Homo sapiens: one gene and its partner. The protein of the gene in region 2 binds, or shares a complex with, the protein of the main gene of each other region. Each region holds a gene or a part of one and is shown on either strand. Other genes may lie near its edges. A codon is read from its position in the direction of its gene.

Evidence for each region.
Region 1: the proteins of SSTR5 (region 2) and CORT are in contact, whole or in part, in a cryo-EM structure (PDB 8X8L), measured with the Homo sapiens proteins. Residues at the interface, in NP_001044.1 of Homo sapiens: Tyr89, Leu96, Gln99, Asn100, Ser103, Asp119, Gln123, Glu182, Thr185, Cys186, Asn187, Ala188, Trp190, Gly198, Phe201, Ile202, Thr205, Phe264, Phe265, Asn268, Asn271, Glu279, Ala283, Tyr286, Phe287, Val290, Tyr294; in NP_001293.3 of Homo sapiens: Cys93 (codon at 972), Arg94 (codon at 969), Phe96 (codon at 963), Phe97 (codon at 960), Trp98 (codon at 957), Lys99 (codon at 954), Thr100 (codon at 951), Phe101 (codon at 948), Ser102 (codon at 945), Ser103 (codon at 942).

What each region holds. Positions count from the first base shown.
Region 1 is NC_000001.11:10,445,049-10,452,525, reverse strand, and holds CORT (cortistatin preproprotein), read right to left. Parts: upstream 2,496-7,477; 5' UTR 2,303-2,495; coding exon 2,204-2,302; intron 1,150-2,203; coding exon 931-1,149; 3' UTR 528-930; downstream 1-527. Other genes in the region: CENPS-CORT (APITD1-CORT protein), read right to left, coding at 931-1,149. UniProt on the Homo sapiens protein: Binds to all human somatostatin receptor (SSTR) subtypes. It also inhibits cAMP production induced by forskolin through SSTRs.
Region 2 is NC_000016.10:1,075,722-1,081,956, reverse strand, and holds the end of SSTR5 (somatostatin receptor type 5), read right to left. Parts: intron 4,334-6,235; exon of another isoform or gene 4,245-4,333; intron 3,500-4,244; exon of another isoform or gene 3,226-3,499; intron 3,132-3,225; exon of another isoform or gene 3,116-3,131; 5' UTR 3,089-3,115; coding exon 1,994-3,088; 3' UTR 503-1,993; downstream 1-502.

The sequences.
Region 1 (7,477 bases), on a different chromosome or scaffold from region 2:
GGTGTGTGCCTGTAGTCCCAGCTACTTGGGAGGCTGAGGCAGGAGAGTCACTTGAACCTCGGAGGCGGAAGCCACAGTGAGCTGAGACCGTGCCATAGCACTCCAGCCTGGGCAACAAAAGCGAAACTCCATCTAAAAAAAAAAAAAAAAAAATTAGCCAGGCATGGAAGCGCATGCTGTAGTCCCAGCTACTCAGGAGGCTGAGGCAGGAGAATCACATGAACCTGGGAGGCGGAAGTTGCAGTGAGCTGAGACCGCGCCATAGCACTCCAGCCTGGGTGACAGCTAGACTCCGTCTCAAAAAAAAAAAAATTCTGTGGGTAGCCTTCATTCCTCCCAAAGCAAATCTGAAGCTATAATCCATGAAAAGAATTGCAACCCATTAAGCTACTAATTAAAACTGGTACATAACAGCAAGTTCGAGTATCAGTTTCACAGGCATGTCAGCAGGTTTTCTGTTTAATATGTTTTAAAATTAATTTCAGCTAAAACATGAGGAATAATCATTTTGCTCTTCGAGCCTGATATTAAAAATTTGCTTTTAATGTGAGGGAAATATTTTTTAAATTAGACAATTCATATCAATTCATAAACTGAAATAAGATGTTATTCTGAACTCTTAATTGTGTAGCCTTTAGCTATTTTATTTTAAATCAAAGACAGAGCTTCCCAGCACCATAATGAACATCAGAAGAAAAGCCCAGTGCCCGCACTCAGCACAGTCCAGTCGAACCACAAAAAAATCTTTATCAAAGATCTTCACTTTGGGTTCCAAATTACTCAAGACACGTCAGTATTGGGCATTATTGGAATTTAAATAACAAACACTTTTCAAATGACTTGGGAAGGAGGAGAGGAAAGATCACTGCTGCTTAATACATTTTATTCAGGTCTGTCATTACACTTGCGTGAGCATTCATGGGTGAGGTTTTATTTGCAGGAGGAGAAGGTCTTCCAGAAGAAGTTCCTGCAGGGCATTCTGTCCCGGCGCGCAGATTGCTGGGGGGGTGCGCCTTCCTGCCGCCTGGCCACCTCCCGGGCTTCCTCTCCTATGAGGGGCCCGGCACTGGCCTGGGAGGTCCACTCAAACCACCAAGCGAGGAAAGTCAGGAGGCTGCTTTTCCTTATTCCTGCCGCTTCCTGCATATGCTTTTAAAGAGAAGCAGATGGCAAAGGAAAGAAAACTCAGCAATCTGGCTCAGGCAGCAAGCATTCAAAGATATGCAATCTCCTCCTTACTTAAAAAAAAAAATGATCTAAAAGACTACCCTGGAGAAAAGAGAAAGAAAATATTAAAATGAAAAGATGCTCCATAGCGATAAGCCTCATTTCCATTTAACGGATGAGGATGAGAAAGTGAAGAGAATACCTTAAAGAAATTGCTTTAATTAGAGAAAAGTTGGTCATTTTAAGTCAAGGGAAGAAACCTGGTTTTGCTCCATACTCTGCTAAGGTCCTTAATTAGGAGAGGTCGGGAAATCTGCCATTTTCCCCTCAGTGACTGGCAGCTGAGAAGCCCGGAGTTGGATCAGGCTAATTTACTCATTCTCCCACCTTTGGCCACACTCCTGGATGTTCACAAGTTGCTTTCTGAGACGATGGGACTGAAACAAACGTTATATTCTGGTTTTTCAAATTCCTTAGAAAGCTTCTGGGAGTAATCTGCTGATAAATGGCCTGCCTGAAACTCATCTGGTAATTTTAGAGAAAAATCCATTTTTAATGCTCAACTTTATATACCCTTTCTTGGAACTTTCTCAAAATGGAAAAAAGAACAATCAATCACCTCACGAAGTTACAAATTCTCACAACGGAAAATGTAATGATGCCAATTACTCTGAGCCAGTGGGAGCCTGTGCTATGTATAACTGAAGGCTCTGGAAGGGCTGTCGCAGCTCCATGCCTGCCCTGCAGTGGACGGGTACACTCGCTTCCCCTTTCCCAGACACCCGACGGAGGGCCCTCCTTGAGCTGCACAGGTTTCCAGCAGGCTTCATGGGTTGGGACATGTAACTGAGGATCAGTGGTCTGAATGCGGCATCCCAGTACCTCGGGCCAGCCAAGAACACTACAAAGTTGAGCCGTGTGTCCTGTCCAAGCTGTGAAGTGCAACACACGTGCACACACACACACCATGCAGGCCAAAAAGCCAACAAGAGACAGAGAGTGGGCTAGCGTGTGGCCACGTCGGGACTGTACTCACCTCGCTGTCTCGGCCGGTGGGGCCACCCTCCAGGGGCAGGGCAGCGGTGGCCGTGGCCCCGGAGAGCAGCAGCAGCAGGAGGCCGGGGGACAATGGCATCTTGTGGGCTGACTGGAGCTTCTCTCCCACCCTGCTGCTGCTCTTCCTTCCTGGCAGCCCTGAAATCAATGTTTTGGGGACTTGGGTCTCTTCTTTGGAGCTTGGTGGGTATTTTAAGCCCAATCTCCAGCTGTTTTTGTGTCTATACATGTCTAACGCCTGGATCCTCTTCCCTCTTCCCTCGCGCAGTGACGCAGAAGCTGGAGCAATCAGTGCCCACAAAAGCGCTCTGGGGTTGGATGTAACCCCTTAATTAAAGCTTCAGGTCTTTTCCTGTGTTTAGAGCGAATTTGCTCTTATTTTGGAACGCATGTGCGCTTGCTTCTGGAGAAGTTCTGCTTCCTCGTAATTATGCCTATAGCAGGCAGGAAGCCGTGAGAACAAAAACAAGTGATTTAACATAATATAAAATTAGCCTAGGATAAGGAGCTTGAATGTGAAATTGTGCCCATGTGAAAGTATGACTGAAACTCATCCAGTAATTTCAGAGACATTCTTCTACTATGGGCAGAGAAACAAGGAGGCAATGGGGGCTCAGAGACGCTACGATCGTATCCGCTGGTTTCACCCAATTGTCGGCAAGGAGGCCCCAAGAATCGCTCCCAGTACTGCCTCTCAGCCCAGCATGCCAGACCCACTGTCCTCTAGGCCAGGCCTTCTCAAACTGAAGTGCAGACGGATCACTTTGCAGGCAGGTCCTGATGCACTGGGGCAGGGAGGAGTTGAGAGCTGCATTTCCAACAAGCACCCAGGCACTGCTGGCCCTGGGGCAGCCGGGCTCTGGCCCACCCAGGCTGGGGTGCAATGGCGCGCTCAACTCACTGCAACCTCCGCCTCCTGGGTTCAAGTGATTCTCCTGCCTCAGCCTCCCGAGTAGCTGGGATTACAGGCACCCGCCACCATGCCTGGCTAATTTTTGTATTTTTTGTAGGGACAGGGTTTCACCACGTTGGCCAGGCTGGTCTCGAACTCTTGATGGTCCAGTGTTTTCTTTTTTTGAGATGGAGTCTCGCTCTTGTTGCCCAGGCTGGAGTGCAATGGTGTGATCTCGGCTCACCGCAACCTCTGGCTCCCGGGTTCAAGTGATTCTCCTGCCTCAGCCTCTCGAGTAGCTGGGATTACGGGCATGTGCCACCACGCCTGGCTAATTTTGTATTTTTAGTAGAGACGGAGATTCTCCATGTTGGTCATGCTGGTCTCGAACTCCCGACCTCAGGTGATCCACCCACCTCGGCCTCCCAAAGTGCTGGAATTACAGGTGTGAGCCACTGCCCCCAGCCTGGACCAGTGTTTTCTTTTTGTTTTTGGATGGAGTCTCGCTCTGTCACCCACGCTGGAGTACAGTGGCATGATCTTGGCTCACTGCAATCTCCATCTCCCGGGTTCAAGCAATTCTCCTGCCTCAGCCTCCAAGTACCTGGGACTACAGGCGCTGGCCACCATGCCCAGCTAATTTTCTGTATTTTTAGTAGAGACAGAGTTTCACCATGTTAGCCAGGCTGGTCTCAATTTCCTGACCTCATGATCTGCCCGCCTTGGCCTCCCAAAGTGCTGGGATTACAAGCGTGAGCCACCGCGCCCGGCCTGGTCCAGTGTTTTCTAAACTGCTCCTGACCACCCACTTGTGGGTCATAGGCCAGTACTTTCCTTTCGAATGAAATTAAAATTAGTGTGCATCACCCGTAGTAAGGATAAATAATGATTCGCATTGTGTGTGTCAGGTGTGAGATGTGCTGTTACTGCAGGGCACAGTCAGTTTGGGAAGCAGTGCCCGGCCCTGCCCTTGGCCAGCTCCCAGGGCTCTCTCTCCTCCTGAGGCTGGCACCACTGCTGAGAGTGCAGACCATGGAGTCCCTCTCTGTGCCACCTGCTGGTTCTTCCTCACAGGCCCTCATTGCTGAATCACACAGACAAATGCACAGACCCCTTTGCCCAACGAGACACCGAGTAAAATCTGAAACATCCACCCAAACCTGCTACAGATGACCAGCATCCAAGGCAAGGCTATAAATTGAGGTAACGCAACCCAAAACTGCCGGCACTTTCTAGAAGTGAACATGTTTGTTTTCAGTTTTCCAAAGTCCTGGTTTACACCTTCAGCAGGGAAATCTCAATCTTGAATTTGTCACAGTCTTTTTGCTTATGTTAAAATCCTAGGTAAGATCAGCATGGCCTGCTGGCCAGAGGCTTATACATCGTATGTTGCTTCATCTTTTATTTATTTTGTTTTTTGTTTTTTTTTGTTTGAGATGGAGTCACTCTGTTGCCCAGACTGGAGTGCAGTGGCTCGATCTCAGCTCACTGCAAACTCCGCCTCCCAGGTTCACACCATTCTCCTGCCTCAGCCTCCTGAGTAGCTGGGACTACAGGTGCCCACCACCACGCCCGGCTGATTTTTTTGTATTTTTAGTAGAGATGGGGTTTCACTGTGTTAGCCAGGATGGTCTCGATCTCCTGACCTCGTGATCCGCCCGCCTCGGCCTCCCAAAGTGCTGGGATTATAGGCATGAGCCACCGCACCTGGCCCATCTTTTATTTCTGTACCAAAATAATTCCCACAAATGACACTAAAAATTTTGAGTTATATTTGCAGATGAGACATTCACAGCAGTTCAGCCAGCTTCTTTTTGTTTTTGAGACGGAGTCTTGCTCTGTCACCCAGGCTGGAGTGCAGTGGCACAACTTCAGCTCACTGCAACCTCTGCCTCCCAGGTTCAAGGGATTCTCCTGTCTCAGCCTCCCAAGTAGCTGGGATTACAGGCAGGAGCCACCACGCCCAGCTAATTTTTGTATTTTTAGTAGAGATTTCACCATGTTGGCCAGGCTGGTCTCAAACTTCTGAACTCAAGTGATCCACCCATCTCAGCCTCCCAAAGTGCTGGGATTACAGGCATGAGACCACCACACCCGGCCTCACCAGCTTCCTATATCGTTAGTCTAGTGTGCCAATTTTATTCAATGAGCTCATTAAACATTCTGAGCACCCAGTATGGAACTTGCAATACCACAAGGGACCCACACCACCCACACCCTGACAGAGGTGTTGCAGCCTCAAAGAAATCGGATACATAGACACAAATGAAAGACAAGGACATTTTTCAGTGCGAGAAGAAGTGTGCAAAGGGGAATGTGCTGCAAATTGGGGAAGGCTTCATGAGAACTGATAATGACTGTTTCAAGAAGGTGACAAACTTTAGGAGGTGGAGACAAGAGGATCACTTAAGCCCAGGAGTTCAAGACCAGACTGGGCAACATAGCAAGACCCCATCTCTACCAAAAAAAAACAAAAATTTAGCCAGGCATGGCAATGCACACCTGCAGTCCTGACTACTTGGGAGGCTGAGGCGAGAGATTCGCTTGAGCCCAGGAATTCAAGACCAGCCTGGGCAACATGGCAAAACTCCATCTCTACAGAAATTAGCTGGACGTGGAGGCACATACCTGTGGTCTCAGCTACTTAGGGGGCTGAGGTAGGAGGATCACCTGAGCATGGGAGGTCAAGGCTGCAGTGAGCCAAGATTGTGCCACTGCACTACAGCATGGGTGACAAAGTGAGACTTTATGACAAAAAAAAAAAAGAAAAAATTTAGCCAGGTGTGGCAACACACACCTACAGTCTCGGGCACTTGGGAAGCTGAGGCAGGAGGATTGCTTGAACCCAGGAATTCGTGGCTGCAGTGAGCTGTGATCATGCCACTGTACTGCAGCCTGGCTGACATAGCAAGAGCCCATCTCAAAAAAAAAAAAAAAAAAAAAAAGGCCGGGTGCAGTGACTCATGCCTATAATCCCAGCACTTTGGGAGGCTGAGGCAGGAGGATCACTTGAGCCCAGGAGTTCAAGACTAGCCTGGGCAACATGCAAAACCTCACCTCTACCAAAAAAAAAAACAAAAAAAAAAACTAGCTGGACATGGTGGCACACACCTGTGGCCCCAGCTACTTGGGGGGCTGAGGCAGGAGGATCACCTGAGCTTGGGAGGTAGAGGCTGCAGTGAGTCAAGATTGAGCCCCTGTACTCCAGCATGGGCGACAAAGTGAGACCTTGTCTCAAAAAGAAAAGAAAACTTAGCCAGGTGTGGTAACACACACCTGCAGTCTTGGGTACTTGGGAGGCTGAGGCAGGAGGATTGCTTGAGCCCAGGAATTCATGGCTGCAGTGAGCTGTGATATACCACTGTACACAGCAAGAGCCCATCTCGAAAAAGAAAAGAAAAAAGAAAAGGCCAGGTGCAGTGACTCATGCCTATAATCTCAGCACTTTGGGAGGTTGAGGCAGGAGGATCACTTGAGTCCAGCTCAGGAGCTTGAGACCAGCCTGGGCAACATTCTGAGACCCTATCTCCACAAAAAAAACTAAAAAATTAGGCAGGCATGGTAGCGCATGCCTGTAGTCCCAGCTACTCAGGAGGCTGAGGCAGGAGGATCACTTTAGCCTGGGAGGTGGAGGCTGTAGTGAGTCATGATTGTGCCACTGCACTCTAGTCTGGGTGACAGAGTGAGACGCTGTCTCAATGAAAAAAAAAAAGCACAAAGTCTCTGAAAGTTATACAGCTACTAGGGTTGCAAACCCAAGAAGCAAACCCAGATCTTTCAACCTTTGGAAAGTCTATAGTATCTATTCCCTAAACTCTTCTTGATGAGTTTTATTATTTATTTATTTTATCTATTTTATTCTACTTTATTTTATTTTATTTTGAGACTTAGTCTCACTCTGTCACCCAGGCTGGAGTGCAGTGGCACAATCTCGGCTCACTGCAGCCTCTGCCTCCTGGGTTCAAGCGATTCTCCTGCCTCAGCCTCCCGAATTTATTTTATTTTTTAGAGTCGGGGTCTTGTTCTGTCACCCAGGCTGCAGTGCAGTAGCACAGTCACCTCACTAAAGCCTTGAACTCCTGGGATCAAGCAACCGTCTGCCTCAGCCTCCTGAGTAGCTAACTGGGTCTACAGGCATGCATCACCATGCCTAACTTATTTTTTACTTTTTTTAGAGATGGGGTCTCACTGTGCTGCCCAGGCTGGTCTCAAACTCCCAGACTCAAGTGAATCTCCTGCCTCAGCCTTCCAAGTTGCTGGGACTACAGACACAAGCCACTGCACCTGGCCAATAAGGAGTTTAAAGAGTGCTTATCCAAAAATGAAACTGCTAACATACGGGCCTTTGGCTGAACGTACTAG
Region 2 (6,235 bases):
GCGCCCGGTGTCAAATCAATTGGAGAAATTGATCTTGGCAGGGATTTCCGAGCCATCTGCTCGGTCCCCAAAGCCTTCTGAGAGGGTGAACATGGCACCCAAATCCCTGGGGAGGCAGGTCGAGGGGGGTGCTGCGGTGTGAACGGGCCTCGGTTTCCCCCAGTGCACCCTGGATGCACCCCTCTTTGGTGACTCAAGAGGCAGAGATTTGTGGACCCCCTGCAGAAGCCCACCCTGCCCCGCCCAGAGCTGTCAAGAAGCTGTGAGGGGCAGCTCCAGCCTAAGACCCCAGGCAGCTTCCATCATTTTTCACCCTGTTCACGAATTCCACGCCTCCCGCTTCCTGCTGGGCATTTGGCCGCCCCCGTCCCGGCCTTGTCTGGCTCAGCGGGGCTGGGGCCGGGGGCGGGCCCTGTGTCGGGCCTCGGGGGAGCCCAGGCTCCGCTCACTCTGCGCTGGCTGCACTCGGCTCCAGGGACAATATTTGCTCGGGGAAAGAATCAAACATTTATCCTCGCATTTATTCAGGGGAGCAGTTGTCAAACACGCGTGTCCTCACTGCTTGGATGTTTCCCAGGCCTGGCCTCAGCCTGGGCCTTTCTCCTGCCAGGATTTGTGCCCACTCAGCCGCTCCCTGTGCCCTCCAGGAGGTTGAGGTCCTGCTCTGGGCAGACGGCGGGAGCACGGGTCGGGGCCAGTGCTGGGCAGGGCAGAGGGGTCCCTGAGGCCGAGTGATGCCGCACCCTGGTCCTTCTCCTTCCAGCCTCAGAGCAAGGCCAAGGTGCCCCAGAGACCCCAGCAAGGCTCTCTGGGCCCACGTTCTGGGCCTGGGGCGCCAGGAAAAGCTGGTGTTTGGGGTGGGGGAGGTAGGACAATTCTAGGTGGGAGGCGGCGGGATTCCCAGGGCCTGCCATTTGCGTCACCCGCGCGGCCGCTGCCTCTCAGCAGTGCTGTCTGCTGTGGCCTGGGGAGCAGCTCCCCGCTGCGCCTGGATGACCGTCCTCTGCTCCTGTCCCCGTTCCCTCTCCCGGGCCAGAGCCCCTGCCCCAAAGCAGAAGAGACGGCCGCAGGTTCCCTGTCCTCTCCAAGCCCTGACCCTCAGGTCCTCCTGCAGCAGGAGCACCTCTCCCTAGTGCCCTCAGGCACCCCACACTGGACCCCTCCAGACAGAGCCAATCTCAGCACGGCACAGCCATCTGCACCCCCAGCAGCCTGGAGGGCTGCAGCCTTCACCCCAACCTCAGCCCCCAGCTCTCCTCTGCACCAGCCGCCTCCCCACCTCGCCCCTGGCTAGGCCAGCGCCCAAGCCCCCACACTCCCCTCTCTGAGACAGCAACTGCCGCCCGCAGCCTCCCATGGGGGGTGTCGGGCAGCAGGGTGGGGCCCCCAGGACAGGCGTGACCCTGGCTGACCAGGGGCTGCCCAGCCACACTCCCCTTACACCTGCATCCCCAGAGTCCACACAGTGCAGGGCAAGCGAGGGGCTGGGGCCCTGGCCAGGGACTCCGGGGACCTGAGTCAAGCGCTTTCGGGTGTCTTTAACTTAGCAGAGCAGCCTTGGACGGGGACCCGGTGGCTCGGAGCTGACATGCAGCTGGTGGGCCGGGCAGGTCAGCTCCGCCGTCAGGAAGACCCTCTCGCCTGGCCGGCCTTCTGGAAAAGTCGCTCCCCAGAGGGAAGGCCGGCATGGGCTGGGGCCAGATGGAGGGTGAGGCGGCCCTGAGCACTTGCACGGCATGGCGGAGCCCCCCACCGGTCTGGCCACCTCCCCTACCTCCCGGGAGCCCCCGCTGTGTGGCAGACGGTTAGAGGGGATGGTCGGTCACGGTGGGGAACCTACTGCCCTGTGTCTACCCCAGCCTGGCTTCAGCCAGCTCTGTCCTCACACCACCGCCGGGGAGCATCCTGACTGGCAGGTCATGGGTGGGGGTCACCGCAGTGCAACCTCCGCTCCTGGGGGTGACACGGGGCCGCCCACCCCCCGCCTGCACTCTCACAGCTTGCTGGTCTGCATAAGCCCGTTGGCTGCGGCGCGGTGCGCGGGTGGCGTGGCCTCCTGCTGCTGCCGGATCCTGTCTGGACGCGGCTCCGTGGCGTCAGCGTCCTTGGCACCAGAGCCCTTGCGGAGGCACAGAACCTTCTGGAAGCTCTGGCGGAAGTTGTCAGAGAGGAAGCCGTAGAGGACGGGGTTGGCACAGCTGTTGGCGTAGGAGAGGATGACCACGAAGAAGTAGAGGCCGGCGGAGGCGGGCTCCTGGGGCAGCGCCACGGCCAGGTTGACGATGTTGACGGTGAAGAAGGGCAGCCAACATCCCGCAAACACCAGCACCACCACCAACACCATGCGCGTCACCTTCCGCTCCGAGCGCCGCCGCACGCAGCCCACGCGCACGCCCGCCGCCCTCACCTTCACCACGATGAGCAGGTAGCACAGGCAGATGACCAGCAGCGGCGCGAAGAAGCCCAGCACGGCCGTGTAGATGATGAAGACGGCGCCCCACAGCCCCACGGGCTCCGGCCAGCTGGCGTTGCAGGTACCGCCCTCCTGCACGTCCGCGAACACCAGGAGCGGCAGCGACATGCACAGAGACAGGACCCAGGCCGCGGCGCTCGCCAGCTTGGCCACACGCGGGCGGCGCCAGCGGGCCGAGCTCAGCGGGTGCACCACTGCCAGGTAGCGGTCCACGCTCATGACTGTCAGGCAGAAGACACTGGTGAACTGGTTGACGCCGTCCAGCGTCATGACCAGGCGGCACAGGACGGGGCCGAAGGGCCAGAAGGACGCGGCGTTCTGCGTGGCCAGGAAAGGCAGCCCCAGCATGTACAGGACGTCGGCCACTGCCAGGTTGAGAATGTAGATGTTGGTGACGGTCTTCATCTTGGCGAAGCGCAGCACCACGTAGATGACCAGCGTGTTCCCGCCCAGCCCGGCCGCACACACCAGCAGGTACAGCACGGGCACCAGCACCGCCCGGGCCCCTGCCGAGGGCGCCGGCCCCACCAGCGTCCTGTTGTCACCGCCTCCAGAGGCAGCCCCCGGGGAGGAGGCGTTCCAGCTGGGCGTGGAGGCTGGGAACAGGGGCTCCATGGCGGCAGCCCTGGGGTGCGTCAGGCTCTGCAAGAGAAGAAGGGAGGACGCCAGGGTGGTGAGTCCCTGAACCAGCACATGCAGGCATTCCTTCCTCCTGGGCCCCAGCCCCGCCTGCCAGGAGGCGCGGGATCACCGGGTAAACACGATTAGTCATGTTTAGCTTGGCCGGGAATCACGTTAAGCAAATTGTTTGGAAAATAAGCCAGGAGAGGAAGGAGCGGCGGGCAGGTGGCCCCGGGAGCCCAGACGGACGGCTGCTGTCGATATGGCGACAGCTGCCCTGTGGCCGCCCCTGCACCCAGATGGCGCCTGGCCTGGCCGCAGCATCCTGGAGTCTGAGGCCAGCACCTGCGTCTCCCTGAAGCCCCTCAGAGCCTGCCCTGCAGTGCTGCTGCCCTCGTCTACCAGGTAAGGAGCCGAGGCCCAGCGGGCGGCCCCTCCCGGGACACACAGGGAGAGGTGGCAGTGGAGAGAGATGGGGCCGGTGGTCGGCCCCCTGTCCGCCTGGGATGAATGGCACCTGGCTAGGACGACCTGAGAAGTGGCTGGACGTGGTGTCGCCACCGCAGCCTCGAGGGACTTTCACCGGGGTGCCCGCTGCCCGTTGGCCCCGAACCTCTCTCCAGGCCAGCGCAGGGACCGTCACCCCCACAGCAATGACAGACATCTGTAAACCCAGGCGGGGGCACAGCACAGGGCCAGAGAGACACCACCCTCCCCACGGGGCGGCTGCAGAGAAGCAAACACACAAACCACACAGAGTGGTCACACGGAGCCCCAGGAGTCACACAGGGCGAAGGAGGGGGGACTGCGGGCGGGGGCTGCACACCCTGCAGCCCGGAGGAGAAGCCGCGGTGGGGGGTGTGGGCGGGTCAGAGGCATAGCGTATGGGGGCTGCAGCCACCTGACACTGCCCAGTCCCATCGGAGCTTTGAGCCCCCTCCCAGGCCCTGGAACCCCCCACTGTGGCCCAGAGAGAGAACAGGGGAGACTTGGGGGAGGGGAGGGAGGGGTGTCCATGGAGAAGGGTGGGCTGGGAATGGTGACGTCTGTGGGTCCAAGGCCATGGGCACGTGTGTACCTCGTATATTGTTTTTGTATTTTTCTGCATGTTTGAAATCATTCATAAAAATGATACTCCGGCTGGGTGCAGTGGCTCAAGCCTGTCATCCCAGCACTGTGGGAGGCCGAGGCGGGTGGATCACCTGAGGACAGGAGTTCAAGACCAGCCTGGGCAACATGGTGAGACCCCCGTCTCTACAAAAAATACAAAAATTAGCCAAGTGTGGTGGCGGGCGCCTGTAGTCCCAGCCACTGAGGAGGCTGAGTCAGGAGGATCATTTGAGCCCAGGAGGTTGAGGCTGCAGTGAGCTGTGATTACACCACTGCACGCCAGCCTGGGTGACTGAGCAAGACCCTGTCTCAAAAAGAAGATCAATGCCTCCCCTGACGAGTGGGGCGGAGGAAGTCCGGATGTTTGGGTTGACCCTGGAGCTGTGTGACTCTGGGGGTGGCCAGCAGAGAATCAAAGTGTCCCCTAGGATCCAGACCAGGGACAAGCCCCTCCCTGGGGGACCTCGGCCTGAGCAGGGGTGGAGCCGGCTGTGGTGACCTCAGCATGTGCCGTCTGGAGCCCTGGGGCTGCTCAGCTGACCGGCCCTGACCCTGGAGGCACCTCAGAGCACAGGACGACCCCAGCAGCTGCCAGGAAAGGCCACAGTCCTGGCTGGGGGCTGTGGGGCTGGGCCAAGGCCACTGAAATCTGGTAGACAAGGAAAGGAGAGCTGGGGACGGGGGAGCCCAGAACACAAGGCTGACAGCACAAAGAGAAAGCCCTCTGTCCCCAACAAACCTAGAAATCAACATCCCCAAGCTCGCATGGCCCAAACACACTAAGAAATACGACTCAGAAAATCAACAGGGCCAGTGGACCCATGGATCCATCTCAGGGAGATAAAAATAACGAGCAAACAGGTACGCTTAGGCTATGTTTAAATATGTGCAGGATCCACAGAGACAGCATGGATAAAATGTTAGGAAATACATTTGGCTTCTGTCTAAGGAGTAAAATGAACAGGCATCTATTTTTAAAAATTACAAATCCTGGATGTAAAAAATACAATCATTTAAGTGGAAAAAAACACTACAAAAGTGGTCAGAACCAACTCCAGTGTGGACAGCACTGAAGAGAGAATTGGTGAATGGGAAGAGGGTTGAAAGATTCACTGGAGCAGGGTGCTGGCACAAGGTCCAGAGAGGGCTCTGTGGGGTGGGCAGGGGGAGAGCATGGCTGGGCTCCCCCAGAACTGGCGACAGGATCCCTTCTGGGAGCGCACCTGTCCCAAGCAGCATAAAGGAATGAAAGAGCATCCCCATCAAGCTGCGGCATCTGGGCAGGGACGCCAGCCAGAGAGACACCAGCCAGAGAGACAGGACGGATTCCCACAGGCAGGAGCCAGAGTGCAGCAGAATCCTCAGCAGGGACGGAGCAGTGGCCTCCACGCAGACCCCGGGGTGGGAGAAGAGGGGAGGTGGGGAGGGAGAAAGAAAGACAGGGTGTGGGGAGAGAGGGAGGGAGAGGGAGAGGGAGAGGGAGAGGGAGAGGGAGGGGGTGGCAGGGAGGGAGAGAGAAAGATAGGGTATGGGGGAGAGGGAGGGGGAGGCGGGGAGGGAGAGAGAAAACAGGGTAGGGGGAGAGAGAGAGGAGGGAGAGGGAGAGGGATGGGGAGGCGGGGAGGAGAGAGGGAGAGAGGGAGGGAGAGGGAGGGGGAGGGGAGGAGAGAGGGAGAGAGGGAGGGAAAGGGAGGGGAGGTGAGGGGGGAGGGAGAGGGAGGGGGAGGTGGGGAGGGAGAGAGAAAAGGTGGGGGGAGAGGGAGGGGGAGGAGGGGGAGGGAGAGAGAGGGGGAGGTGGGGAGGGAGAGAGAAAGACAGGGTGGGGGGAGAGAGGGAGGGAGAGAGAGTGGGGGGGGAGAGAGAGAGACAGGGTAGGGGGAGAGAGGGAGGGAGGGAGAGGGAGAGGGAGGGGAAGAGGCCTGTGGCTCTCCGCTCCCCAGGGACCAGCATGGAAATCCAACACGCCATGTTTGCGGCTCCCTCTGGCTGCCTGTGGAGCATGCATTCCGGAAGGACAGTGGTCTGGAGACA